Linked DNA regions of Homo sapiens: region 2 is linked to region 1. Evidence: fine-mapped expression QTL. A gene starts in region 1. The other region holds a variant in brackets. All regions are shown on one strand. Distances are from middle to middle. Region 1 holds the start of NUDT14 (nudix hydrolase 14). Region 2 holds the start of MIR6765 (microRNA 6765).

The links.
Region 2: its variant is fine-mapped to the expression of NUDT14 in whole blood (INTERVAL, PIP above 0.99). The same link has a PIP of 0.9 or more in skeletal muscle.

What each region holds. Positions count from the first base shown.
Region 1 is chr14:105,172,318-105,186,920 of GRCh38, forward strand. NUDT14 (nudix hydrolase 14) reads right to left here and starts at 8,995. Exons shown (of 5, transcript NM_177533.5): 1 at 8,812-8,995; 2 at 5,375-5,418; 3 at 4,646-4,710; 4 at 4,217-4,454; 5 at 622-944. The coding sequence starts at 8,892. The coding sequence ends at 704. RefSeq lists a silencer at 8,695-9,164.
Region 2 is chr14:105,147,538-105,162,140 of GRCh38, forward strand. JAG2 (jagged canonical Notch ligand 2) reads right to left here. Exons shown (of 26, transcript NM_002226.5): 3 at 10,169-10,226; 4 at 8,201-8,452; 5 at 8,025-8,085; 6 at 4,624-4,754; 7 at 4,401-4,520; 8 at 4,089-4,202; 9 at 3,746-3,859; 10 at 3,454-3,567; 11 at 3,328-3,374; 12 at 3,067-3,240; 13 at 1,633-1,783; 14 at 1,400-1,552; 15 at 1,208-1,321; 16 at 789-902; 2 more. MIR6765 (microRNA 6765) reads right to left here and starts at 3,327; the gene lies at 3,241-3,327. RefSeq lists an enhancer at 7,454-8,052. The variant C/T (reference allele first, on the strand shown) is at 6,303.

The sequences.
Region 1 (14,603 bases):
TGTCCCCACCCTGTGCCGCCACCTGCTCCTCTTGGAGCAAGCCTGCAGACATTTCTGCATACCCCACAGGCCGAGGAAGGTCCCTTGGAAAACTTCCAAGGCTGGGGGTGCACGGATCAGCTACTGGGGCCCCCGACACAGGGCAGCTTTGGCTCCGGGCTCCTGTGGAGTGGCTCTAGCCCAGCCCCAGTCAGGGTGGGGACCCCTCACTTGCCCCAGGAGCAGGGAACATACTTTCCCTGCAGCGTGCAGCCTGCAGTGCTGCCCACCCCATCCTAACTCCTGAGGACTGGCTCAGCCACCACTCTCGTGAGCACAGCTCATGCTGCAGCCCCGTGACCAGCAGGCCCACCCCCAGGCCTGCCATGCCACCCTCCATGAGTCCCGGACCCCACCCCTCCCAGCTCCAAGAGGAGGCACAGCCTGGCCCTGCCCATGGCATCCCCAGGCCTGTCCTCAGCCCCACAGCAACCACCTGCATGGCCTGCCACCAGCTACTCCTCCTACAGGAGAGCTCGCCGTGTCCCGAGGGCCATCTCAGGTCAGGGTCACTGCTTCCCGCCCCTTCCCCAGTCCTCTCCAAGGCCCTGGTCACAGAGCTCAGAACCAGCAGGCAGAAGCTGGAGCTATGCAAGCCTTTATTGGGGTCCGCGGGGTGTGGGGTGAGTGGCCAAGACTGGCCTCTGTCTAGAACCCTGGAGTCTCACTGGAGATCCAGGTTGGGGGCCACCTGGCTGAGGAACCATGAGACACCAAAGATGACGCCGAGGGTCTTGGGGATGTCCGGGTCGTCTGCAAAGGCCTGGGCGCCTTCCAGGGGCAGGTGCACCACCTCAATGAGCTCACCCTCCTCCACCAGGCCCCCACCTGGACCGCTACGCTGGGCATCTGTCACCTCTGTGTAGAACATGGTCTGTCTGGAGCCAGTCAGTCCCACTCCAGACCTACGGGTTGAGACAGGGTCTGCTGAGTCACCCACGCTGGCCCCGCTGGCCCCCTGGCCCTTCTACCACCCTCCAACCCACCCTCTCCACTCTGCTCCCTCCAGCCCTCCAGTAGGCAGGACTCTGGGATGCCCTCTCCCACCCGGATTCCCACCTGGTGTGCACGCCCGTGGCCCCTCCCGCAGCAGGGCATCCCTTCCCTGATCACGTTGTACTCGCCAGGTGGGGTGGGTGTTGTCGATGTGATTAAGGACCCTAACCGGTGACTTGAGCTCATCAGAAGGGAGAGCATCCTAGGCGGGCATGGCCCGATCACGAAGCCCTCCAGAGGGTGTTTCAACGCCAGAAAGGGAGAAATTCAGGCCAGTCCTGCTGGCCCTGAAGGGGAAGCAACCGCCATGCTGGGAAGGGCCAACAGCCAGCAGGGAGGTGGGACCCAGTCCCCAGCCACCAGGAGCTGAATTCTGCCATAACCTCGTGAGCCGGGAAGACCCCAAGCCCCCATGAGATTGCAGATCCGGCTGACAACCTGCCTGCAACCTGTCAAGGCCAAGCAGAAGACCCCACCCCTGTCTGCAGCCCCCAACCAGATACCCTGAGGCTGTTCCCAGTGCTGTTTGGAGCCCCTCAGTCTGTGGCCAGCTGCAGAGGCCCATGCCAGACCCCAGCCCATACCCGGGGACACAGGCTGGCTGGGAAGCAGGGACAAACCCACCAGGCCTTCCCGCAAGGGTTCCCCACCAGGCACCCACAGGACACAAGTTTCAGACTAGGAACAGCATGCACTGACCGCCCCCCCACCCCCCGTAGCATGGCAGAGTGGGGTGGGGTGGCAGCGAGGTCCTCAGTACCAGGCCCAGTGGCCCAGGCTGGGGAGGGGTAAGAGGAAGCCCCCTCCCTCAGTGGGCAGTGGCCAGAAGGGGGCTGCTGGCAGCCAGGAGGGGTCAGGCACCAAGGGAAGGAGCCTGGACTGGCGTGTGTGGAGGGAGACCACGGGCTAGGAGGACAGGATGGCAGAGGGGCTGGGCTGCATTCTGGAACAGGAGGGGGAGGGCCAGGTGTGGATCTGGGGAGAAACGGGACTGAGGGGCATCTGGGAAGATGACCAGGGGGTGGGGGAGCCCTGGCTCGCCGCAGGAGGGGCTGTCGGGTGCCATGAACCAAGGCCAGCCGGAGGCCTGCAGGGTAGAGGCCGCCCTCTGAGATGTACCCAACATACAGGGGCAGGGACAGAACTGGGGGCTTCCATGCCCCACCCCCAAGGCCTCCCCACCTCCGGGGGGACTCACCCCAGACCGACCTTACCCAGCTGCTTCCTTGCCCTCTAGCCCCTCACCTCCCGCAGACCCCTTCCTGATGGCCCATTTCCGGCGGCGGCCGCGGCTGCGCCTCTGAGGGAAGTGGCGGGTCTGGGGTTTCCAGCCCCGGTTTCCGCCGGCTTGTGAAGGAGACAGGCCCGGCCCTTGGCCCGGGCTGAGAGGAATCTGCCAGCCAGGCTGGGCAACGCCTCCCCCACCCCAGGGCACGTTCCAACTTCACTCCATCACGCCCCAAGCTGACTGCCTCCCTGGGCCTTGTCCTTTGCAGCGGCAGGTAAGAGGCCTGGCTCACCTCCAGAATCAGAGACAGGGAGCCACGGGCCCTGCCACAGGGTGGGTGAACTTTGCTGTCAGTCCAGCCCCCCATCAGGCCCTCAGAGACGGACACCCTGACCCCTAGTCAGCAGCATCTCCAGTCCTGCATCCCTGAAGCCACGGCCTGCTCTTCCCGATGCGAGTCTAAGCAGGATGCCTACTTCCCAGAGCCCTCCTTGGCTCCCCAGCACCCTCACAATCAGGCTGTGGCCCAGAGGCTGTACCAGTAGAACCACCGCGGCCAGGGCTGCTTGACCACTTGCCCTGAGAGCCTGTGCGGTCCCTCTGCCAGGAACCTGCCCAGGCCCACCTCCTCCAGGGGGACCAAGGGGACTCCAGCCCCTCCCATGCCTCCCGGCTGTGCTCAGTACTATGGGCTGGGGAGCTGGGGGCACAGTGGGCGTGGCCCACCACGGGGTAGACACCTGCAGAAAACCAAGGCCCATCCTTCACACCCAAGTCCACCCTTCGGCATGGAAATTCTGTTTTGTTGAGACAGAGTTTCGCTCTTGTTGCCCAGGCTAGAGTGCAATGGCGCGATCTCGGCTCACCGCAACCTCCGCCTCCTGGGTTCAGGCTCACCGCAACCTCCGCCTCCTGGGTTCAAGCGATTCTCCTGCCTCAGTCTCCTGAGTAGCTGGAATTACAGGCTCCTGCCACCACGCCTGGCTAATTTTGTACTTTTAGCAGAGGCGGGGTTTCTCCATGTGGTCAGGCTGGTCTCGAACTCCTGACCTCAGGTGATCCGCCTGCCTCGGCCTCCCAAAGTGCTGGGATTACAGGCGTGAGCCACCGTGCCTGGCCCAGCGTGGAAATGCTGCCTTTAACTTGGGAGTCCACCCATCCAGCCAGGAACGTGCCCAGGTGAAGTCCTTGAGGCTGCTGAGGTGGGAGGGCCCCAGGCTCAACCCTGAGTGGCCCATGTGCCAGGCTGACAGGTGCAGAGACTTCCGGTGCTTCTCCCAGTGGAGCGGGCCCTGGCCTCTGGAGGAGGCTGTGGAGGCTGGTGCTCAGCTGGTGGGGGTGGGGGTCTGTGACACCCTCCTCCTTCCCCAAGACCTCAGCTGGGGTCAGGAGCCCATCGTAGCGTCCCTGGGGAAGTGGATGGGCTTCATACCAACATCTAGTCCTGGGAAGGCAACCCCACCCCAGCTGGCAGCCCTCGCGGGGCAAGAGTTGGTGCCTCGAGTTTGGTGGGTCAGGTCCCAAAGCGCAGGCTCTAGTGCCTGTTCCCCAGGAGAGCTGGAGCCACCCCTTCTCCAGCCCAGGACACAGCTTCTCCCTCATTCCTAAGCCACCCTCTGAGAACAGAGCTGTGAGTCACCCCCACCCCCAGCGCCCGGTCTTAATCCTACAGGAAGTAGAGGCACCTGTCAGCAGCAGCTGTCACCCGGCCTGCCTCACACAGCTGGGGGCCGCAGGCTGGGGGCATGGGGCCGAGACGCTGCAGAGAGAGCCCCAAGAGCCCAGATTCTGGCCTGGCTTAGGAGCTGAGGCGCATTCGGTCCAACCCTCCCCTAATCCCATGTTGGAAAACAAGGAGGAATCCATCCTGCTTGCACACTCCCAGGGACGGGGCCCTCACTCTCTCCCATCTCCTGAGTCACACCACAGGCCTGAGGGCCTGGTCCCACTCACCAGTATGTGGCGACCCGGCGCAGATCAGAGGGGGCCAAGTGGTAGCCACACTCCTCCCAAGCCTCCTTGCAAGCCACTTCCTCCAGCGAGAGCCCAGGCTGGTCCACGAGGCCGGCACACAGCTCAACTGTCACCCCCGCTGAGCCGGGCAGGGCTGGCTGTAGCTCCCGAGGCCCGTCCTGGTCTACAGCTGCTAGGGACCCTGGGAAGCGGCGCTCCACCTCACCCGCATACACAGCTGCGTGGGAAGAAGCCAGACTGTGCTCACAGCCACGTGGTGGCCACCTCCAGGTCACCCACACAGCCAAGCCCCCTCCCAGGGCCTCAGCTTCCCCTGGAGCCCCCTCCCACATCTGTATTCAGACCCTCAGGACCACAGGGACCTGAAGGTGACCCTGCAGATCCCCTTCCCACCCCAGCTGGCCTCACCTGGCCGGAACTGCTTCACCAACACCAGGCTCCTCCGAGAAGAGTTGAATAAGAGAACGGTCACGCTGTGTACGGGGGGAGGGGCTCAGCACAGAAGCACTCCACTGGCCCTCGTGGGGCCCCACCTCCCATCTTTCTGTTCCCAGCGTGGCCATCCCACCTCCTTGCCAGCAGCCCAGGGAGGTCAGGCCCCTTGCTCAGATAGGATGGCTGAGGCCCAGGCGGGACCAGAGCTTTCCAGGGTCACAGTCTGGCCAGGACCCAGACCTGCTGTATTCCAGCTGGCAGGATGGGAGGCGGGGGGCAGGGAAGGACACACGGGCAGCTGAGTAGGTCAGGGTGCTCGCAGCTGAGGCCGGGTGACTGACAGGACGTTTGGCCCTCACTGAGCAGCTGCCCACCAGCCACACTCCTCGAGCCACGTCGCCATCCAGCCCAGACCCTGGATGCTAGGGGCAAAGGCTCCAGGACAGCCTCTCCCTGCCCTGAGAGGGCCTGCCCACCATCATGGTCCCGGTGGCCTGAGCAAAGACCTGACTCAGCCCCCAGGCCTCAGGCTGACCCCTCAGGGATAGGAAACCCAGAGGCCGGGCAGAGAGAAGGGACTTTTGGAGCCCACGCAGGGAACAGCAACGTCAGGGAGGAGAGGGCACCTTCGCCCTGGGCCCAGTGTCCCCGTAGACATCAGTCTGGGGCTTCCCCAGTGGCCAGGCTGGGCCAGGCTCTCACCTGTCATGCGTCTTCATGAAGTCCCAGGACTTCTGGGCACCATTCTAGAAGGGGCAGGTCAGCGGTTAGAATGTCCCAGGATGGGCGGAGGTGCTCGGGGAACCGAGGAGGCCACAGACCCATTGCACCCACTCCTAACCAGGGAGATCGGCTCGTGGCCTGGGCCCACGGGAGCCAGGAACTGCAGCTCCCGTGGGCAGAGGAGCAAGCAGCCTGGGAGGGGCAGGGAGGTCAAGGACAGCCTAATACCCTACGAGTGAGGCAGAAGACCAGGGCAAAGGGCAGGGAAGGTGTCCAGGCACCTCATGAAACACTGCCCAGCACAGACCGAGCACAAGGGGCTGCAGAGAGACGTACACCGTCACCAAGTATAGGAAGGCTCATGGAGGCTCGGGGAGGGCAGGCGTGACTCCCTCACAGCAGGGCAGGAGGGCCCTGCAGGCAGAGGAGAGGTCAGGTTTTCCTGCTGATGCTTCCTTGGGCCACTGAACAGGTGGAGACGGGAGGGCAGGAGGGGCCGGCACCAGGAGTGGATGGGGAAGGGTGGCAGGAGGGGCTGGCACCAGGAGCAGATGAGGAAGGGTGGCGCCCCAGCCAGGTAGGAGATCGCACTGCAGGACTCGGTGACTGTCATGATGGTGACCAGGCTCGGCAGCCCCCCCACACACCCCTACCCCCAGTTTCTGGCCTCGACTCTCCCACATACCCTGTGGTCCCGTTCTCCTGTGGCCACCCTCCACCTTCCCACTCCCCCACACTGGGCACACCACCCTGGCAGGCCCCTGCACCCTGGGTGGCACTCAGTGAACGGAGGAGGCAGGGTGGGCAGGTGTGTGGGCTGGGCCTGCTGGGGGAGGCTGGAACTGATGCATTCTGAGATGCACTCCCATCCTGGGGGCTGAGCCTGGGGTCCCGCGGGGTCCCATCTCCGGCACGCTCAGCCCATCTGCCACTCTGAGGCCCAGGCCAGCTGCTCATCCCCCACCGGGGGCTCTGCCCAGGGCTGTGAAATGGACAAGAGGTCTGAGCAGCAGAGACACAGAAGTGCAGCCAGGACTGCAGAAGAGAGAAGAAGCCTTCCTGAGGACTTTCTGGAGGAGGTGACGGAAGTGAGGGAAGGGACTCTGGGCAGGCAGAGGCGCAGAGGCCCTCTGAGCTTGGCCGGGAGGCAAAGGCGTCCTGGGAGGAGAGTACCGGTTTCCAAGGGAAGGGAGGGCCGGCGTCCCGCGCAGGTCAGGCAGCCCGAGAGGCCGTGGGGTACCACTCCCGGGAGGCGACCCCAGGCCTGCCTGACACCCAGCCACCCCCGAACCACCACCCAGCCAGGGCAGGCTCCAGGGAAGCCCCCTGCCCACAGCCTGCCATGTGCCTGCTGTGCCCATGCCCCTTCCCCACCACTGCTTCCCCCCGAGTAACATCACCCCATGCAGGTCTCAAGGACCCTCTCAGCTCAAGGTCAAAAGCGTGTCAGACCCTTAGGTCCAGCCAGGTCAAGGTGCAGGGAGGTTTAGGGAGGCTGCTGAGGCCTGGGAGGGAGGGGCAGGGCTGGGTGCAAAGAAGACCCCATCGCCTCGGAGCCACGGGGGTCCCCTGCCTTTGGTCTGCCTGACATCACAGGCCTCCCCTGGCTGGACGCAGCAAAAAGCTGAGGGCTGCAGCTGCCCCTGGGTGGCAGCCAGCGTCCAGCCCAATGTCCCTTGGCCCTGAGGAGATGCCGCCCAGCCCGAGCCTACATCCGTGTCCACCACAGCCACAGCCCGAACCAGCTCAGCTCTGGTCACCAGAACCCTTCAGCAGAGCTGTGCCGGCGGGCTGCCCGCTGAGGCTGCAAGGGCTGCCCTGAGGCTTCACGGGGAGTGAGGGAGAGAGTGCTGCCACCAGGGCCACAGAGGGCACCTGCCTGGGCCTGCACCTGCTGCCTGAGACCCAGCCCTGTGGGGACTGTGCAGCCACAAGCAGGCATCCCATATGGCCAACGTCAGGGAAAAGGGCAGTGACCCCATGTCTCCACCTGCTGTACCCCGACTGATCCCAGCTGCCCCCTGCCAGCACCACCAGCTTAGCTTCGCCTTGGGGAGAGGGATCCCCTGTCCTCCAGCGCCAACAGGACTCCCGCAACAGGGAAAGTGAGGGGCACAGGGCCTCTCTCAGGCTGGGGGCCAAGAGGGCTTCTCCAGGATGGCGAGGGGCAGAGTCCTGGATGTGATGGGGGGGACAGGATGCCCCCTGAGGGAGGGAGGCAGGCAGGCAGAGAGGCACTGCGACCTGGACCACCTGACCTGATAGGCTGGGGGGCTGGACTGACTGTGACCAGGAAGGTGGTCTTTGCCTTAATGGCATGAAGGAGCTCTGGCAGAGGGGAGATCTGCTGGGGGCAGGTGGGCATGCAAGCAAAAGGTGGGGCCCTAACTGGACAGGGCTGGGCTTGGAGGAAGACGGCCCGGGACTCAGTGATCCACTGGATGTGGGAAAAGGATGGCAGCAGCTCCTTCACCCAACACATATGCCTCATGCCTGTAATCCCCATGCTTTGGGAAGCCAAGGCAGGAGGATCGGTTGAGGCCAGAAGTTCAAGACCAGCCTGGGCAACAGTGAGACGTCGTCTCTACAAAAAAATTTAAACATTAGCCAGGTGTGGTGGTGTGCACCTGTGGTCCCAGCTACTGGGGCGGGGGCTGAGGCAGGAGGATCGCTTGAGCCCAGGAGGTTGAGGCTGCAGTGAGCTGTGACCATGCCACTGCACTCCAGCCTGGGCGACAGCAAGACCCTGTCTCAAAAACAAAACAAAACAAAATATTCCTTGTGAACCTACCATGTGCCTGGTGCTAAGTGAGGCAATACAGCCTCTTGTGCCGTGGCCTGGCATGGGAGAAGGTGACACCCTAGGAGGTGGGGAAGGCTGAGCTTAGGCAGATGGAGACTCCAAGGAGGTGCCCTCCCTGGAAAAAACCCCAAGGAGGAAGCCTGCTTTGAGAGGCTCTCTCAAGTTCTCACTCAGCTCCTTCTCCTACCTCCCTGCGCCCGGCCTCTGCGCTCCTTGCTCCCTCCTCCTCGGCCCAGCTATCTCCTCCTTCAAGTGGTAGCATGAAAGCCACCACTTCCAGGAAGCCTTCCCTGATCCCCAGGGCAACCAAGGAGTTCCACTGCCAAGAGGGTCGGATTGGGCGGGCGGGAAGGATGGGGCCCAGCAATGCTTCCTTGAAAGGATGAGTGGTGCCCCCTCAGATGTCCCTCCCGCGGCCCCTCCCCGGCCTGGGGGCTCACTGGGTCTGGGAACCCGCGATCCGGCGGGCGGACAAGCGGCCGCCCGGGAGATCGGCGGGAGGCGGGGGCGGGGCTCCGGGGCGGGGCCGGCAGCGCGGAAGATGGTGGGCGGGGCGCGGGTCGTGGGCCGGGCCGCCGGCGGGGGCGCGGGGGACGCGGGGGCGCGGGCTCACCTGGCGGTAATGCAGCGTGAGCGGCCGCAGGTAGGGTGAGGCGGCGCAGCGGCCCACGGACGCCCCCTCGATGCGCTCCATGGCGGCGCCCGGACAGGCGGGGGCCGCGAGCTCTGCGGGGGCCGACACGGGGCGGCGCCCTGTCCCGACAGGAGCCTTCGGGCGGGCGCGTGACCGCGGCTCTGAGCATGCTCCGTGGGCGCGCGGGGCGGGGCGGCCGAGGTGGGCGGGGCGGCCGAGGTGGGCGGGGCTCGCAGGTGCCACCTGTCGGGTGCCGCGCGCCTCGGGGCGCTGGTCGCCGCGGTGCCAGGGAAGCCGCGCAGGCACGTGGGCGTCGCCCGGGGGAAGGACTGGCCGGGTCGACCCCGGCCGCCGGGCGGGGCCAGCCGGGCCGGGGTACAGTGCTTGGGTGGGACTCGGGACCTCTTGGCTGGGGGAGGGAGGGCCTGGCGGTGGTTGGAGCTAAGGGCCTGCAGCTTTGGGGTGCGATGGGCCGAGCGGATGCCTCCCCACTCTGGGGATGGACCACAACCCCGAGATTAAGTTACTCCAGGGGTCCGCGGGCGGGGCCGGGGGCGGGGCAGCCCCCCAGGGAGGGAGGGACTGTGGGCCCAGGAAGAAAATCACAGGAGACCAAAGAGAGAGGGCCCTGGAAGGAAGCTAGGGGAGAGGAGAGTAGGGAGCTGGAGGGGCCAGAGCTTGGGCCGAGGGGGCCTCCCCTCGAGGTTCCTGGTGGCGAGGGTGGCTGGGAGCTGCCACGCTGTCTCTGGAGCTGTCCCTCCTCCACTCAAAAGCCAGCTGCCCTTCCCTCCCCCTGCAAGTCCTACCTTGATGACGGCCCTTCCTGGGTGTGGGAGGGTCCCAGGCAGCTTCAGTGCTTCCTTGGGCATGGATTCCAAGGACCCCCTCCAAATGCCACCACGGCCTCCACGGGGGCAGGAAACAATATTGAGGCCCACACTGGCCCTGAACCCTGACCTGCACCTGCTTTCTGAACTATGGCCCAGGGGACATGCTCAGGGTGGACTGGCCATGTGAGCTTGAAATCGACTCCCAGTTCCCTGTTAACTATTGCCGTGTAACAAAACACTCCTCCAAAGCTTAGTGCCTTAAAGCACCCCGTTATCGCCTGGCCTGTGGGTTGCCCAGCTCAGCCAGGCAGCCCTGTCTTGGGGTCTCTCTGCAGTTGTAATCAGGTGGCAGCTGGGGCTGGAGTCGTCTGAAGGCCAAACGGGGTGGACCGTCCAGGATGGCCTCTTCGCCCCCGCCCTCAGTTGGGTGGCTGGAACAGCTAGGGCCGGCTGGCCTCCCATGTGGCTGGCGTGGGCTTCCCTGCAGCATGGTGGTCTCGGGGTAGTTGGATTCTCCCGTGGCAGCTGGCTCCCTCCAGAGCACGTTCACCAGGCCAGGCCAAGCTGCCAGGCTTTGTGTGACCTGGCCTCAGATGTCATATGGTGTCATTCCTGGGGCATCCTGTGGGTCAGAAAGTCCTGGGCCTCCGGCAGATTCCAGGGGAGGGACATCACCAGGTGGGAACGCTGGGGAGCACGGTCATGAAGCCAGCATCCAAGTCCAGCTGTCACCGCCCCAGTAGCTCTACAGGGGCCTGTGTCTCCCTGCTTTAGCCATTCCGCCTGGTGTCCCGGAAGCCAGAGCGCCCAGCCCAGAAGCTGGCCCCACCCTACCCCACAGCCAGGCAGGCCTCTTCCTCCGGTGCACGAGGGGCCCAGGGTAAGCGCGCACCCTGGCATGTCGCGTGCAGGCTCCTTCCTGCCCGTGGTTGCATGGAAAATGAGGATGAGTCTCAGCTTCCAGCAGCAGCAGCCCCGGGACAGGCAGAGGCAACAGGAGCCCCATCAAGGAGCCCCTGGGAGAGCCAGCAGCTCCTCAAAGCACCGTGCTCCTCAGACTCACTCGGGTCCAGGTGTCTGGCAGTGCAGACTGCAGAGCTGAGTGCCTGAAAATATCAGCAAGGAGCCCACTGTGGGACGCAGCCTGGCGGCTCCTCAAAAAGTTAAGCATAGAATTACCCTGTGGTCCAGCAACTGTCTTCCTGGGTATCCACCCAAAGGAGTTGAAAACAGACACTCAGACAGATGCTTCCTCACAGCAGCCAAAGGGAAGAACAACCCAAGCATCCGTTGCCAGGTGAATGGATCCAGAAAATGCAGTGTAGACGTGTAAGGTAGCACAACTCAGCCATGAGGAGAGAAATTCCCACACAAGCGACAGCGACACTATGCTCAGCAAAAGAAGCCAGACACAAAGGCCGTGTCCTCTGCGATTTTGTGTATATGAAATGTCCAGGCCGGGCGCGGTGGCTCATGCCTGTAATCCCAGCACTTTGGGAGGCCGAGGCAGGCAGATCACGTGATGTCAAGAGTTCGAGACCAGCCTGGACAACATGGTGAAACCCTGTCTCTACTAAAAGCCAGCCGTGGTGGTGTGTGCTTGTAATCCCAGCTTCTCGGGAGGCTGAGGCACGAGAATCGCTTGCACACGGGAGGGAGAGGTTGCGGTGAGCTGAGATCTTGACACTGCATTCCAGCCTGGGTGACAGAGTAAGACTCCATCAAGAAAGGCAAAGGCAAAGGCAAAGGCAAAGCAAGGCAAGGCAAGGCAGAGAAAGGGAGGGAGGGAGACAAAAAGCAAGAAAGAAAAAAGAAAATGTCCAGAACAGGTAAATCCATGAGACGGAAAAGCAGCTGCGGACTGGTGGGGCTGAGGGCGGGAGAATGAAGAATGCTGACTAATGGGTGCCGGCTTTCCTTTCCGTTTGGGGTGAAGAAGGCATTCTGGAAGCAGGCAGTGCTGGTGGCCGCACAGCAGTATGAATGTACTGAATGCCGCTCAGTGTGCACTGTGAAGTGTTTAATGTTCTGTGAATTTCAGTTCCATTTTAAACAAATTTTATTTAGAGATAGGGTCTCATGATGTGGCTCAGGCTGGACTTGAACTCCTGGCCCCAAGCAATTCCCCCACCTCGGCCTGCTGAGTAGCTGGGACTACAGGTTCACACTACCATGCCTGGCTCGGTTCAATTTTTTTTTTTTTAAAAAAAGGAAAAACCAGTGTCACTGAGGCTATTCAGGAACATTCCATGCTGTCTATGACCACAAGGCCACTGCCCACACGTGGAGCTGAGGACAGGGCAAGTGAGGCCTGCTGTCCCTCCGAGATGGAAAGGGAGAAAAGGCAGAAGCAGCCCAGGCACTTTACCAGTTCCTGCTGTGCACTGGGGTGGCTCGAACAGGTGATTCGGGGCAGGCCTGATGTCACAAGAAGTTAGGACAGGCATGCCAAGAGGCAGAGGACAGCCTCCCCGAGGACACGACACTCCCCAGAAACCCGAAGATCCAAGGCAGGAGAAAGGAAGCTGTCCTGGCAGGAGGAGACCGAGGCCAGAAGAGGCGTTGTGGCCCTGGGGGCAGCTCCCTTGGCCTGTGCTTGGCACATCCCCTGGGGCCACTGGAAGTCTCGGAGGGGTTGGGCAGGGCAGGTGGTCAGATGCCCCTCTGGGAGGTCACCGTGGCTGCCTGGGGCCGGGGGAGGAGGAGACTGGTCCGAGGGCCTTTGGCTGTTGTCCAGAGTGGTGGCTGTGCAGAGGATGGCTTCGTTCCCCATGGAAGCAGGTGCAGGAGGAGGAGGAGGAGCTTGATTTGGGGAGGGGCTCCAGGAGGGGGAATGAGAGGACTCCGTGTGGCCAGGTGGCCTGAGAGCCACAGTGGAGAGCTCTGAAAAGCCACCTCTGGCTTTGGCAGTGTGGAGGCTTCAAAGACCCTGCTGAGCATAGTGGCAGAGGCCCCTGCAGATGCCCTGTAGCGGGGCCAGAGGGCATGTGGGGTGAGAGCACCAGTGTCAGCTCCCCAGGGCTGCCAAGACAAACCACTGCCAACCCAGCAGCTGGGAACAGCACGGCCATGGCCTTCCAGCCCTGGGGGACGGGTGTCCAAAACGCATCCCACCGGGTGAAGGTCAAGGGTCACAGGGCGGCTCCTTCTGGGGGCTCCAGGGGAAGATCCATTCCTTGTCTTCTCCAGCTTCCGGAGGCGGCCCCCGCCCCCTCCTCACCTTCAAGGCCAGCAGAGCGCCCCTCCGTCCTCCCCCGACTCTGCCTCCGTCCTCGCGTCTCCACCCTCCTGCTCCCTCTTCTGAGGTCCTTGTGACCACAATTTAGGGCCCCCCCGGGTCATCCGGGGCCATCCGGGGCCATCTCCCACCTCGGGTCCTTCTGTTAGTCAAACCTGCTAAGTCCCCTTTGCCACAGAAGGTCCATACTCGCAGGTTCTGGGGATCCAGGTGTGGACTCTGGGGAGGATGCGTCGGGAGGGCATCACCACCAGGGCAGGACCCTGTGGCGCCAGGATCTGCAGCCTGGGGCCTCGCCCCGCAGCAAGTGGGCGGGTTTCTTGCAGGACACCTAGGAGACCGCTGTGGGCTTCTGTCCCCCTTCCTCTGTAAGGGGAGTGAGGCAAGGGCCCCTGCCAAGGATGAGATGGGAGGGGAGGGAGGCGAAGTGGCCCCTGTTGGCAGGGGGCTTGGGTGCGGGCTCCGAGGGGGCCTGGGGAGCAAGGCTTCCTGGTGGCACCGGGCTGGGGATGCTCCTGGGCCATGCTGGAGGCAGGGCAGGTACAAGGGGGGCCCCTGGGCTCCTCCATGGCTCAGCTCCTTCCCAGTAAGGTCACAGGCAGCAGGTGGATTGGAGAGTTGAGGACACTGAGCAGGGAGCTACAGGCATGACAGAGCCCAGGTGGGGGTGCGGGGGGTGGGGAGGACGTGGGGGAGTCAGGGGCGGGAGGGGTGCAGGAAAGCCAGGGGCGGGGATTCCGAGGTAAGTGCAGAGGGAGTGTCCCGAGAGAGGCTGAGTTGAGGGGAAGCTGGAGGAGGATCAGGATGGGGGGTCAGGAGGTCGGGGGTGTGGGGCACAGAAGTCCACTGGGTGTGGGCAGGAGTTGAGTGCAGAGTGCTCATAAGTGAGCAGAGTGGTGGGCTCCAGGACTGGCAGTGGGGTGCTGGGGGGATACAGCAGAGACCACACCCGGAGGAGCAGCAGGGGGCTGGGCCGTGTGTGTGTGTGTGTGTGTGTGTGTGTGTATCTGTGCATCTCTGTGTGTCTGTGTGTGTAATGGAGAGAAGCAGTATGTGTGTGTGTGGAGGTGTGTGTGGGGGGCTGTGTGTGGGGGGTGTACATGAGTGTGTGGGGGGTATGTGTGTGAGTGTGGGGGAGTATGTGGGGGGGTGTGTGGGAGTGAATGTGGGGGTATGTGTGTGGGGGGGTGTGTGTGTATGGGGTGTGTGTGTGGGGTATGTGAGTGGGTGTGGGGGTATGTGTGTGGGGGGGTATGTGTGTGAGTGTGGGGGAGTATGTGGGGGGGTGTGTGGGAGTGAATGTGGGGGTATGTGTGTGGGGGGGTGTGTGTGTATGGGGTGTGTGTGTGGGGTATGTGAGTGGGTGTGGGGGTATGTGTGTGGGGGGGTATGTGTGTGAGTGTGGGGGAGTATGTGGGGGGGTGTGTGGGAGTGAATGTGGGGGTATGTGTGTGGGGGGGTGTGTGTGTATGGGGTGTGTGTGTGGGGTATGTGAGTGGGTGTGGGGGTATGTGTGGGTGTGTATAGGGGGTGTGTGGGAGGTGTGTGTGTGGGCTGTGTGTGTGGGGGTATCTTTGTGGGGGGTATGGGGGGTGTGGGGGGTGTGTGTGTGTGAGTGTGGGGGGTATGTGTGTGGGGCGTATGTGTATGGGGGTATGTGTGTGTGAGTGTGGGGGGTATGTGTGTGGGGTGTATGTGTATGG
Region 2 (14,603 bases), 25 kb before region 1:
AGAAGAGAACGCAGGGGATCAGTACCCACCCCCCAAGCGTGCCAGGCACTGTCCAGGCTGGCTTGGCGTGATCAGGCTGTGGGGCTGGGGAGGGTCATCAAGGAGGGTGCCTTTTGCTGGGGGCAGGGGCAGCAGGGGGAGGGGCTGGCAGAAGGGACTGGGGGGCGAGTCGGGGGCAGGGATGTCATCTGGGTGGAGGAAAGCGGCCCCCGCCCACACCCCTCCCACACTCACTGTGAGTGCAAGTACGACCCTCCCAGCCGTCCCGGCAGATGCAGGAGAAGGAGGCCCCGCTGCCCACGCAGGTGCCACCATTCACACAGGGGTTGGGCAGGCAGCTGCTGTTCTTGGCTGTAAGGAGAGGAGGAGGAGGGAGCGTCTCACCTGGCCCTGGGCTGGCCCTGGGTCTCCATACCGCGCCCCCAACCCAGACAGGGCAGACAGACCCGGGGGCAGGGGGCAGGGGGCAGGTGGCAGGTGTGGCCCTCAAAAAAGACCCCTCGGCCCATCGCGCCCGAGGGAGCGGTGCCTGGGAGGGCATATGCCCGGCGGTCGCAGAGGCAGCGGGGGCTCCTCACCGACGGCGCAGGTGCTGCCCTTCCAGCCGGGGGGGCAGGCGCAGCGGAAGGTGTCGCCGCTGTCGTAGCAGGTGCCACCGTTGCTGCAGGTGTAGGCATCGCACTGGAACTCGCCTGTTGGCACATGGGCCGCTCAGCAGGCAGGCCCCAGACCGCCAGGGCCAGGGTCCTGGGGGCAGCCCCAGGCGGCCAGGGCCTGCGGACACTCACGTGAGTGGCAGGTCTTGCCCTTCCAGCCGTCGTCGCACGCACAGTAGAAGTCATTGACCAGGTCGTAGCAGCGGCCGCGGCTGTGGCAGGGATCGGGAAGGCAGTCGTTGGGATCTGGGGGCGAGGACGCCGGTCAGCGGGCGGGGGGTCACCGGCGCTCAGGGAGGGCTTCCCGGGGGAGGAAGCACTGGAGCTGGGCCAGGTGAGGACAGAGAGGGGCGGGGGAGGAGCGTCGGGCCGGGGGAGCTGGCCTCGGGCATGGGGGCAGCCTGGGACTCCACCCCATGGTGGCAGCACCCCCTGGCCAGGCCTTTCTGGGTACGGGGCCTGCCGCACCCAGACAGCGGTCCATCTCAGGGTGATAAGGGGCCCACAGGGGTGGAGGCACAGGCCGTGTGGGCGGGTGCTGGAACACTCACTGGTGTCGCAGAGCTCGCCCTCCCAGCCGCTGGGGCAGAAGCAGCGGAAGGCGTCCACCTCATCGATGCATGTGCCCCCATTGCGGCAGGGCTGGCCCAGGCAGTCGTCAATGTCTGCAGAGGCGAGCGGGGTGAGCCAGGGCCTCAGGCCAGCCCAGCCCCACCACCAGCCCGCCGTTCGTGGCCACTCACTCTCATGGCAGTAGGTGCCAGTAAAGCCACTGTCACAGATGCAGGAAAAGTTGCCCCCTGGCTGGCTGACGCAGCGTCCATGGGGGCCACACACGCCGGAGGCTGCTGTGCCAGGCATCCCAGGCCCCGCGTCTGACCCGCAGCCATCGATCACTATGGCAGGCAGTACAGTCAGGAGTCAGGCCCGCCCCTGCCCCACCACCTCCCCCACCACCCCATGCCGCACCCAGCACCTCTGCAGGCCCCGCCAGGGCACGGCTCGCGGGGCACGGAGCAGTTCTTGCCACCAAAGTCATCAGGGCAGGCGCAGTAATAGTCACCCTCCAGGTTATAGCAGCGAGCGCCGTTCCGGCAGGGGCTTGGCTCACAAAGGTCGACATCCACCTGCAGGGTGGGGGGTGCCTGTGAGAGCCTAGGCCCAGGCCCAGGCCGGGAACACAGGCCAGGCCTCTGTCCATACGAAGGTAGATCCCTGGGGACCCCCAGGCCCCTCCGCCCTGGGCCTAACAGTGCCAGCCAGAGCCCAAGACCCCTGCCCACCTGAGACTGCCCAGGCCTTAGCTGAACGCAGATACCTGTGGGCCCCCACCCCCACCTCCACTGCAGCCCAGCTTCCTCACTGTCCCTCGGGAGGAGTGTGGCCTTGGCCCCTGCTGCTGGCAGGAAGGACAGCTCCTGAGCCCCTCACACACTGCCTGGCCACCCTCAGAGCCAAGACTGTGGGTCTTTTCCAGGGCCAGCCACTGCCATGCTTGCAGGTCCTGAGGTCAGACCCCTGCCCTGGGCCCCAAGAAGCCCTCTGGACAGGAGGCCCATCCTCTGCACCAAGGCCAGGGCAGGATCGTGGGCGGCCGAGGGTGGTAGGGAGGTGGGTGGGGGGAGGCAGGGAAAAAGGGGAAGTAAGGGGAGGGGGTGGTAGGGAGGCAGGTAATGGGGAGGCAGGGTTGGGGGAGGTGGGGAAGGGGGTGGTAGGGAGGTGGGTGGGGGGAGGCAGGGTTGGGGGAGGTGGGGAAGGGGGTGGTAGGGAGGTGGGTGGGGGGAGGCAGGGTTGGGGGAGGTAGGGGAGGGGTGATAGTGAGGTGGGTGGGGGGAGGCAGGGTTGGGGGAGGTGGGGAAGGGGGAGGTGGGGAAGGGGGTGGTAGGGGTGGTGGGGAAGGGGGAAGGCAGGTTACTTTGGAGGCAGGGGGGAAGGGGAGGTTGGGGGAGGGGGTCCAGTACCAACAGATGGTCAGAGGGAGGCGAGAGCATCAGCCCTGAGAGAGATGCCCACTCCGACCCAGGACTCACCTATGACAGGTGTATACCTCTCCACCATCAGGCACCCACCCTACCCCATGTGCTCTGCCCACCAGAGCCCCCTGCCCTCCAGTCCCGAGGGAGTGCACAGATGGACAGATAGGCCTGGGCAGCCAGCAGCCCGGGGGCTCCTAGCCCAGGCCACCAGGAAACCCATCACAACAAGCAATGGCCACAGGGGGCCAAGCCTGGTGACCTGTGACAGCCCCGCCTGCCCACCTGGCACCCAGTGGAGAGCTGAGCCTGGGACGCCTTGGGGACAACTTCCCCTGCAGCACCCCTGGGTCACTCAGGCCCCATGGTCAGGGGACGAGGCCTGCCCTACAGCTCCCAGAGCAGCAGGTGGGGCAGGGTGACCAGGCAGACCTCACCTCACAGAGAGGCCCGGAGAAGCCCTGGGGGCAGTGGCAGTGGAAGCCGTCGGCCAGGTCCTCGCAGAGGCCGCCGCTGTGGCAGGGGCTGCTGGCACACTCGTCTCGTTCCAGCTCGCAATGCCGGCCTCCGAAGCCCCGTGGGCACACACACTGGTACCCGTTCACCAGGTCCTGGGCGGGCCAGCCAGGTGAGCGTCCCGCAGGCACCCTGACGGCCCCGCAGCACCCACGCCACACACCCTCCTGGCCCCGCCTCACCTTGCAGGTGCCCCCATGCTGACACTGCCCGCGACAGTCGTTGACGTCTGGGGGCAGAGGAGCAGGGTCAGAGGCGGGGTCCCATGTGCCTCGGCCCACCCGCCGGCGCCCACCCCCCATACTGACTGATATGGCAGTTGATGCCCTTCCAGCCCGGGATGCAATCACAGTAATAGCCGCCAATCAGGTTTTTGCAAGAAAAAGCGTTAAGGCATGGCTTCCCTTCACACTCATTGGCGTCTGTGAAAGAGACAAGGTGGGAGCCGTGGGGCTCGGGCCCTGCCTGCCCCCTGCAGCACGGGCACCTGGCACCCGCAGCCCAGCAGCCCCAGCAGCCCCAGCAGCCCCCGCAGCCCCAGCAGCCCCCGCAGCCCGCATGCGCGGCCCACGTTCCCATGCACTCGCTCGGAGCCCTTACCCAGCTGGCAGGTGGCCCCCACCCACTGCTCGGGGCAGATGCACTCAAAGCCGTCCACCTGGTCCACACAGGTGCCACCGGCCGCACACGGGTTCGAAGCACACTCATCGATGTCTGCAGAGGGTGGAGAAAGGTGGGGCCCTGGCAGTGTGAGCCGTGGGAATAAGGTCCCCATGGGCAGGTGGCGCTGCAAGCCTGGGTCTTCCTGCCATTTGTCCTCGCCAAGCCAGCCGCAGCCACACGTGTGGACTTGACCACTGCACCCCATCCCCAGCGAGTTGCCCCACTCCCAGACCCCCACTGATACTAGGCAGGAGTCCCCTACTCACGTGCAGACACTCACCAAGGGCACAGGTGGGCCCGCTCCAGCCCGATGGGCAGTGGCATTCGAAGCCGGACGGCACCTCATGGCAAGAGCCCCCGTTGGCACACGGGTTGGAGGTGCAGGCGTGCTCAGCTGTAGAACCGCGGGGAGGGGGCAGAGCTGGCAGCCAGGCCCCCAGCTTTCCACAAGCACTCCTCCCCAAGCCCACAGGTTCCCAAGCTGGGGGTCAGGGGCCCACCACACAGGACGCCAGAGGGATGGGGCCTGACCGGCTCCCCAGGGAACCAGTCCCTGCCTGGCCAGAATTTGGGTGGCCAGCCCCCCACGTACCCTTCTCACAGTTCCTGCCCGAGTAGCCGTCAGGGCAGGTGCAGCGGTACTGGTCAGGCTCGGCGTTGATGCACGTGCCTCCGTTGGTGCAGGGGTGGTGGCTGCCACAGTAGTTCAGGTCTGGGGGCAGGGGTGGGATGCTCAGGGGAAAAGCCGGCCCCCCGCTCCCCCACAACCCACACTTCGATGGCAGAGCATTAGGCCTGCCGCCCCCTACCACTACCTTTGTCACAGAGCAGGCCGCCCCAGTTGGTCTCACAGTTGCACTGCCAGGGCTCCACACAACTGCCATGCACGCAGCCGGGGTAGGGGACACACTCATCGCAGAACCTCCCTTGCCAGCCGTAGCTGCACCTGGGGGAAGGAGGAGGGGCGCAAGACCCAGTGAGCTGTGGTGCCTGAAAGGGTGGCAGGGGAGCCAGGCACAGTCACCCACGCCACACCCAGGGCCGGCGGGCGGCCTCAGGCCTTTGAACTGGAGCAGCCCCAGCCAGGCAGGGGTTGCAGCCCTGCCGGCCAGCCCCACTGTCACGGGCATTCCCGGCCGCTGGCTGCCGACGGTCAGCCCCAGCTGTCCCGTCACTCCTCCCTGAGCTATTTTGGGATTCACCCGTGAGCTGGGCCCCGAGAGCAGGCACCAGGAAAGGAAGGCCCTGCCGGGACCCCGGGGATGAGAATGCCGGCTCGGACTCACAAGGTGCTGCCAGGGCCGGGAGGCACCAGGGGCTGGGTAGGCCAGCGGGCAGCAGGGGAGCACTCCTGGCTCTGCCTCGGCCATGTGGCCCTGGGCACAGCACGTGCCCTCGCCCCCACCTCAAAGGCAGTCATTTCGCTCGCTCCCAGTAAAGTCCCACAAGGTACCCATCTCACAGATGGGGCTACTGAGGCCCACAGGCTGGCCTGGGCCAGCCCTGCCCAGGGTAGTTCCTGATTCTGCAGGAGCTCCAGCTGCACCCCCAGCTGCACCCCCCAGGACACAACCACCAGGACTCGCCCTGCCCCAGGCTATCGGCCAACGTCCTGTCTTGGGAGTCCCCCAGGAGAGGGCAGGTGGCCAGGGTAGAACATGGCCTGACTTGAGGGTGCCTCCGTCAGGGGAGAGAGCCTGCAACGACCCCAAGGCTCAGCAGGCTGCCATCCAGGCCCTGCCGGGACTCCCGGGGGGCCCTTCCTAGAACTCTCCGGTCCTGCAGGACGGGAATGTCATCCAGGCCACGTCACTTCCACACCGGCACCCGCCACACTTTATTTTTGTAAAAGGAAAGAACCACGGCCCTTCCTGAGCCGCCCTCAAGCCACACAGCCAGCACCGAAGGCCTATCAGCCCAGTTCAGCTGCCACAAATGGGGAAACTGAGGCCGGGAAGAACGTGTCTCCAGTATCCAGCCCAGCATGCACAGTGGTCCGCGTGGGTGGCCTCACATCCCGCCTAGAATCCCTCCTCCACAGACACAGAGACCCAGGCTCAGGGCGGGGCTGTGACACACCTTGGGTCATCGGCCAGAGAGCGGCCACAGCCGGGCTCAGAGCCCAGACCTCGTGGGTCCCAAGGGCGTGCTCTCGACCCTGGGCAGGGCAGCCCACACCAGGCCCCCACCTCCTGGTTTCCCCAGCCAGCAGCCCCAGGGCCCTGGAGAGGCGGCGGCAGGAAGGCATGGCCATCTCCGCAGCATCCGGTGGGGGGGCGTCCTGCACTGGAACCTGAGCCGAGGCTGTCAGCAACAGCTGGGCCTCCCCGACAGGGCCAGCAAGAGGGGCAGGCGGAGCTCACCTACTGCCCCCACCCACCAGGCCCCCCAGACTCCGGCTCATCTTCCTGCGGGTAAAGGGCAGGGATGGCCAACTTCTCTGCTGCCTTCCTCCAGCCTTGGTGTGACATTCAAGCTGCCAGCCAGCAGCCAT[C/T]CAGGGAGGGTGGCACTGCCATCCAGGTTGTGTGATGCACACTGGGCCAGGCGAGGGTGAGTGGGGCCGACTCCCGTAGATCTACATCTACATCTGCCCAGACCAGGTCCACCTTGTTGCACTTTCTGAGCTGACTTGGGACTCGCTCAACCTGCCGGGAATCCCTGTGTGTGCAAGTGACCGGGTGGGCGGCCCCAGCCCTGCTTGCCTCCCCGCTCTGGGACTGGCCGGGAAAGCTCCTCACTGTACCCTCCAGGCCACTCAACCGTGGGGCCTGTGGAAGGGTCACCCACCTCCCCACCTTGGCTCCCAACTCAGCTGGTTCCCAAACTCCCCGACTCCTCTCCAAAACGCCACGCTGTGTGACCCTGGGGAAATCAGTAGGCTCTCTGTGCCCCAGTGTCCTCGTCCCATGGAGGCAAACCCACTCCACAGAGGGAGGTCCTGGGACCCCTGCAATCCAAGGCTGGCTGGAGGGCGGTGCTCACCTCCACCTGCTGTCTCTCCACCCGCTCGCGCCCCTCTCTCGGGCTCCCCAGCTTGCTCACGCACAGTGAGCGCCACGGCTCGAAGCCCGTGCCCACCCCAGACCCTGGGCCCCAGCCCCTCTGGTTGCCCTGCTGACTTCTCTGCTCCACTCTAGGGCAAAGCTGCCAGCCCCCCTGGCTGGATCCCCCACACTCTGGTCTGGGTCCAGAGGCCTCCACCATCTGGACTTGGCTGTAAGACCCCGGACACTCCCTTGTGGAGGCCCTTGCTGACTCCTCATCCATCCGCCCTGACCTGTGGCAGCCGGGACTTGCTCCTTGGCCTCCCTCCTCTCTGCCTTCCCCACTTTCCCGTCACCGCCTGAATGCCACCCCCCACAGGCCCCGCGTGGCGCAGGCCAGGCCTCTCCCACGAGCTTTCTGGGTGTCTCCAGGGACAGGGCAGGCATCGCCTCTCCACATCCAGCTAACCCCGGCCCCGCCTGCTCCTCTGTGGCATTCCTCCTGCCACCATGGCTCTGCTACTCAGCAGCTTGGGGTTCTCCCTGACTCCACACCCTTCCTGCTTGATCAAATCCATCCACAAACCCCTGGGCTCCACCCCAGGATGTCTGCAGGACCCGTGCGCCTCTCCCCCTTCCACTGACCCCCTCCCCATCCCGCTGGCCCCTCCCCCACCACCCCCACATGCCCCACAGCGGCCTCCCCCTCACAGCCTCCCGTCTGGTGCTTCCCCACTCAACAGCTACCACAGCCCTTCCACCCACCTTGCCCAGCTACAAACCTGCCAGCAGCCCCTTCCTCTGTCCCTGGTCCTGCAGGCCTCAGCTCCCACCACTGGTCTGCTCTGCCGCCCCTCGCCTGCTGGTGTCACTTGCCGGCCGCTCGCCGCCCACCCCCTCCCCATGGGCAGGGTTACCGTGTCCTCTGCCCATGCCCCATCTCTGGGTGGCTTGCAGCCTCCGGGTCTCTGCCCCTCGGTGACGTGACTGTCCAGCCAGCCTCCCCAGTCTCTCCTCACTGTCCTCACATGGCTGCCGCCATCAGACACATCCCATGCTCAGACACGCACCTACTGCACTAAGGAGCCTCCCGAGCTCAGGGCCCGGCTCTCACAGCTGTGTGCCCAACCTCCAGCCAGCTCCGGGCGACTCCTGACAGCAAGGCTGTGTGTGCCAGTGAGGACGTGAGGGCAAAGGTTGGGAGGGCAAAGACGGGCCGGCGGCACACTCACCTGCACTCCCCAGGCACGGTGCATCCCCCGTGGAGCAAATTACACCCTTGTTTACACACAGCTGCGAACAGAGAGGAGCGAGAGGCACAGCTGCAGCCAGCCTGGCCGCAAGGCCTGTGCCCGGGGCCCTGCCCGAGGCCCTCCCTGCCCTCCACGCAGCCCAGCGGCCCCCTCACCTTCCTTGCACTCCTTGCCCATCCAGCCGTCCATGCAGGCCTTGTTGCCGTACTGGTCGCAGGTGTAGTGGCCGAAAAAGTCGTTGCGGGGCCGGCAGAACTTGTTGCAAGTGGCGCTGTAGTAGTTCTCGTCGCAGCGCACGCGGATCTGCAGCTCCAGGTGCGCCACGTGGCCGCTGAAGTGCAGGCTCTTCCAGCGGTCCTCCGGGTTGATCATGCCGGCATGCGACACTCGCTCGATCAGCAGCTCCTCTTGGGGAGGCGGCAGAGTCAGCACAGGCCAGAGAAACCAGCCCGGCCAGGGGTCCTCCAGGAACAACGGGGACGGGGCAGAAGCCTGCGGCTGCTGCAAGGCCGGGGCACAGCAGGCAGCAGCACACGGAGGGCAGGGCCCCCGGCCAGGCTGCTACAGAAAGCTCAGGGCCCCGAGAGGCCTCTCCCTCCCGCCACCAAGCCTGCGCCCCGCTCCCACCCTAAACGCAGAGGGTCGGGGGGCCCGGCTAGGGGCTAGGGGCCCTGCAGGGAGGGCTGCTGAGACCACAGGCTCCACAGAGAAGGCACGGCTGCTGCCAGGGCGTGAGTCTCACGTCCCACACCTGTGCCCACCCACCTGCAGCCCTGCTCCAACACCTGCACCCACCTGCGCCGTGTCCAGCCCTCGACAGCACGGACATGGTGCTCAGTTGCCCTCCCCTCTCCTGCGCTGTGACTTGCTCCCAGAAGTGCCAAACACCACTACCGTCCCCACCTTAAGACAAGCCTCCCCTCAGGCCCCCAAGACAGGCATAGGTCCCGTGACCCGCTGTCTAAGCCTCACTTTAAGTAAGCCACCAGGAGACCAGGGGCCAGGGGCACCACAGCTGCTGGCGCTGGTATGCAAAGTCCGTGATGCCGGTCCCTGCGCTTAGGCACAGGCTCGACGTTTTGCACAATAAAAGGTGAACGGGTCCTCCAGACCCCACCTCTCCCGCCTCGGGCCAAGGCCTGGGAGGACACTGTGCTGGCCCACTCCCCAAGGGGCGTCCCGGCCGCCCCAGCCTCTCCAGGCTCACGTTGTCAAGAGCCCTGACGACCTTGCTTGGGACTCAGCCCACCTGTCTCTCTGCCACCCCCTCAGGAAACACCCCTGCCCTGAGCCGCTGGGGTCCCCACAACTGCTGCTCCCCACCTGGGCACCCCCACCGCCGTCCCTGCCCTGAAAACAGCCCCTCCACTCTGCTGGCAGCCAGGATGCCCTGGCCCCGCTCTCCCTCCTCCAACCCATTGGCCAACCCCATGCCTCCACTTCTGAGAGCCCCTCTCACCCCCAGACTGCCCCTGGTCCAAGTCACCCTGACACGCCCAGATTCACGTGGCAGCTCCTCCTCGGTCTGTGTCCTGGCCCCACAGCCCACCCTCCATAAGGCAGCCACAGCTTGCCAGGCGGAGCCCGTGTCCTCTCAGTGGCTTGCCAGCCTCCATGATCTGAGCCCAGCCCCGGCTGCTCCCCCTGCACAGCCAGCCCGCTCCTGCCCAGACCTTCACACGAGCTGCTCCCTTGGCCTGTGGGTGCTTCTGCATTCACCCATGGAAGTCATCCCGTTACCCCTGCAGGGCCCTGCAGAGCCCCTGCCTCAGGGAGAGGGCCACCAAGGCTCCATGCTCCAGTACAGACAAGCAGAGGGGGCCACAAAGCCAGAGACACACTCAAGGGTGTCCCCTCCACTAAGTCACTGCCATGGGCCCCAAAAGAGCACACCCAAGAGGAGAACAACATAGGCAAAGCCAGGACTGGGGAAGAGAGTGCATGCACAGCTCTGCAAGTCCCAAACGTGGCAGAGCTTCCTGGCAGCCAAAGCAAAAAGGGAAACAGCACACATGATCCTCAGGGTAAAGCAAGGCTTTGTCCCAAGCAGACAGAGGAGCTGGGCCCTGCCACAGGCACGCTGAAGCTGAGAGGAGCTGCCACCTGGCCCAGGGCTCACTCACCATTCGGGGTGGTATCGTTGTCCCAGTCCCAGGCCTCCACGATGAGGGTAAAGGAGCGCTGCAGACATGGGGAGGCGGGTCAGGTACCTGAGGCCACACCTGCCTGCCTCGTTCAGGGTGGGACAAGGCCCAGGGCTCAGACGCTGCCCCTGGGTCTGCCAGGCTCTGGCCCTTCCTCCCCAGCCAGGGACCCACCACCCTCCTCATCCTCAGGCCACATCCTCTGCAGACCCAAAAATGACCCAGCTCAAGGGAGGGAGACTGCCCCTCCAGGCCACGCGGGCTCAGGGGCCTGGGCTCCCTACCGTTGGGGTGCCAGAGGCCCAGCCTGCCCTGAGCTGGCTCAAGTCAGCACGGAGCACAGGAAGAGCGACCGGGGGGAGAGGTGGGCAAAGGGCAGCCTGGCTGGAGTGGCCACAGACAGGGGCCCCATGGGCAGCCGGGACCCGAGCGTTTCCTGTGGAACGCCCCTTGGTGCCTCACTGGGGGTGACCACGGGGGAGAACGTGGGGCCCCATCACCACGCTGGCGGCCTCCACCAAGTGCACGGGGTGGCCAAGTACAGGGCGCCCAGCCAGAGGCCCCAACAGGCCGGAGCTCAGGTCCTGCAGGCATACAGCACACAGGCAAACCCACACCTACCTCCACCCTCACACAGAACAGGTGGCAGGAGGGGCCCTTGCGGTACAGTTGGGGAAACTGAGGCCAAGAGGTCCTGGGACTGCCCAGCACAGCCTCAGACCATGGCCACTATGCCCCCTCTGCCCCCGGGCCACCTGGCCCTTGTACCCCAGCCATGGCGACAGGCGATGCTGTCAGCCAAGCAAAGAGACCACAGGGCTGGCCCCCTGCTCCGCCTAGTGCAGCCCACGGAGACCGTCACTCACAGACATGCTCAGACAGGTGGGACCCCCGGGACATGCCCTGTACTACCCAGCACTGGGTACCCACATTCCACAGCCTCTCAGCCCTCACTGCCCAGGAACCCCCCAGTCTACCCCTGGTGTGCTCTTGACCCCTGAGCCCAGCCCTGGCTCCTTCCAGGTGGGGCCCAGAGGAGGGGGCTGGGGCTGAGTCACCTCAGGGCCTGCTGGCTTCCCACCCCGGGGGGATGCTGCGTTGGGCAGTGTCCAGGCAGGCCAGGCTCACTCCATCCCTCAGCACACCCCATCCAACCAGCCCCAAGGCCTGGCTAAGCTGGGGAAAACCACACTTCCCCAGCAAGGCCCAACCCCACGCCTGCCAGCCCTTCCCTGGTCCTCACCCGCCGCCCACCCCACGCACGTCCCAGTGCCTCGGCCTCATCCAGCTAAGGACAGGCCTGGCCTCCCAAGATGTCTCAGAAGACTGCACTCCCACGTCCAGCCCCTCCCCTAACCAACGTGCTACCAGCCACACCCAGCCCAGCCTCCAGGACCCCCACCCAGTCCCCCGCCCCACACCTCCGACTGTCCCTCAAATACAGACAACTAGGGCCCAACATGACTGCTGACCCTGGGCCTCACTCACAGCTGGGCAACCCCGGCCCCGCCCCCGAGCCCCTGCCTGCAGAACACCCGGGGACGGCCCGAGGAGGCTCACCCAGGTAGGAGCACAGGATGGAAGTGGGGGGCCATCCCCAACCCGCTCCTAGAACCCTCCCTAGCCACGTCGAGCTGACAACAGACCCTCAATCCCACCTCTTAAGCTCCCCTTAAACCCGTTTTCCCACATCCGCCATGGCCCCGCCAGGCCACGGGGCCCAGTCCCCGCCCATCTCCAGGGCTCCCTGAGGTCACCAGGGCCCGCAAACCTCTGCCTACAGGCGCCAGACAATCCCCAGAGTTCCATCCACATGCCTCCCAAGGCTCCGTCCACACCCCCCGCCGAGCTCTGTTTACACCCCCCAGAGCTCCATCCACACCCCCAAAGAACTCAATCCACATCCCCCAACGGGGTTCCATCCACACCCCCCAACAGGCTCCATCACCTCCCCAGGGCTCCATCCACACCCCGCAACATGCTCCATCCACACCCCCCCAGAGCTCCATCCACACCCCCCCAGGGCTCCATCCACACCCCCCCAGAGTTCCATCCACACACCCCAACATGCTCCGTCCACACCCCCCCCCAGAGCTCTGTCCACACCCCCCAACATGCTCCATCCACACCCCCCAGGGCTCCATCCATACCCCCCAGAGCTCCATCCACACCCCCCGAGTTCCATCCACACCCCCCAACATGCTCCATCCACACACCCCAACATGCTCCATCCACACCCCCCAACAGGGCTCCGTCCACACCCCCCCCAGAGCTCTGTCCACCCCCCCCAACATGCTCCATCCACACCCCCCCAGGGCTCCATCCATACCCCCCCAGAGCTCCATCCACACCCCCCAACATGCTCCATCCATACCCCCCCAGGGCTCCATCCACACCCCCCAGGACTCTGTCCACACCACCCCCAGGACTGTGTCCACACCCCCCAAGGGCTCTGTCCACAAACCACCCCCGTCAGCTCCATCCACACCCCCCAGGGCTCCATCCACACCCCCACCAGGACTCTGTCCACGCCCTCTCAGCTCAGAGCACCCTTGGGGTTCCCAAGGCTCCTGCCCACCCCCACCCACCCACCCCAGCCTATCAACCCATCTGCCTGGAGCACCACCCTCGCAGCTGCACCTGGCCAAGCCCTTCCCCACCCCCGGTAACACCTGGAGCACCCAGCCGCTTCCCAGGCGTCTGGCATTTGGCTCCTTCCTTCGTTCCTTCCTTCCTTCGTTCACATCAAGTGTACAGCAGGCATGCCTCTGCCACCAAGGACGGCAACCTATAGCCAGCGGGGCTCGGGGAAAGCAACAGGGGGCAGGGGCTGTTGTTCCAATAAGGCCAGGCCAACGGGTCACAGTGGCTCACGCCTGTAATCCCAACACTTTAAGAGGCTGAGGCAGGCAGATCACCTGAGGTCAGGAGTTCGAGACTAGTCTGGTCAACACGGTTAATCCTCATCTCTACTAAAAATATAAAAATTAGCCAGCCATGGTGGCAGGTGTCTGTAGTCCCAGCTACTCTGGAGGCTGAGGCAGGAGAATCACCTGAACCCAGGAGGCCGAGGTTGCAGCGAGCCGAGATCGCACCATTGCACTCCAGCCTGGGCAACGAGGGCAAAACTCCATCTCAAAAAAAAAAAAAAAAGGCCAGGCCAGGCTTTGAACAGGTGGCATTGAGATTGAGGCTGCAGGGCATGAGGAAGTGAAGGAGCTGCATGGCAGAGCCCACAAGAAGGCCCAGGGGCTGAGAACGCATAGCCCACGGGGACAGTGGGGTCATACCACAGATCCAGACCCCACCACGGACTTCCTTCCTGAGGCTAAGCGAAGTGGGTGACTGTTGCGGGTCTGAGTGAGGTCTGTTCGGGTGTTGGGGGTCCGAGTGAGGTCTGTTGGGGGTCTGAGTGAGGTCTGTTGGGGGTCTGAGTGAGGTCTGTTGTTGGGGGTCTGAGTGAGGTCTGTTGTTGGGGGTCTGAGTGAGGTCTGTTGTTGGGGGTCTGAGTGAGGACTGGGACCCACCAGGCTTTAACAGTCACTGTAGCCGCTGGACAGGAACCAGCAGGACCAGGAAGCAGCAATAGTGAGGTCAGAGGATGGGGCCAGCATGGGTCTGAGAGCAGCTCTGGCCACGGGGCAGGCAGAGAAAAGCCAGGCCACCCGGTCTCCCGGCACAGCCACACCTGGGCTTCAGGGCCAGCAGGGAGTTCCTCTCGACTCCCAGGAAACCTCATGCCAGCCACTCAGGTAAGATTACTGCCACCTTCGCCTGAGCCCAGGGCTCCGGTTACCTGCTCCCGCAGGGACGTGTGCCTGCCCGCCCGCCGAGAGGGCCTCACCGCCCGCCAGCTGGGGTCCCTACACCTGGATGGCAGGAAGTCATCCAGAGTGAACCTGAGCTGGCTGACGGGGCGGTACCTGCCTCACCCCACCTGCCAGCTCTCCCAGCTCCCCTTCTTCCCTAGGGGCCAGCCTCCAGGACTTATTTGCCTCTTCTGTGAATAACAACCTCTCACCCCCGTCCTTCCAGGACTCAGTTGCCTCCTCTGCGAATAGCAACCTCTCATCCCTGTCCTTCCAGGACTCAGTTGCCTCCTCTGCGAATAGCAACCTCTCACCCCTGTCCTTCCAGGACTCAGTTGCCTCCTCTGCGAATAGCAACCTCTCACCCCTGTCCTTCCTGCCTGGCGGGCCACGATCTGGGACAGGGTTTTGTCAACACCAAACCCCTAGAACACAGGAGGGACTATAGGGCCTGGATTGGGCGGGGGTTGGCGGGCATGTTGCCCTTCTAGGAACGGGGCTGGGACATGTGGGGATGTGGGCCTGGCGCTGGCAGGGGCAATAGGCGATGTGTGGGCTGGGGGTCTGGGGACAGGTGAGAGACCCATCACCTGCCCAGGTTCCCC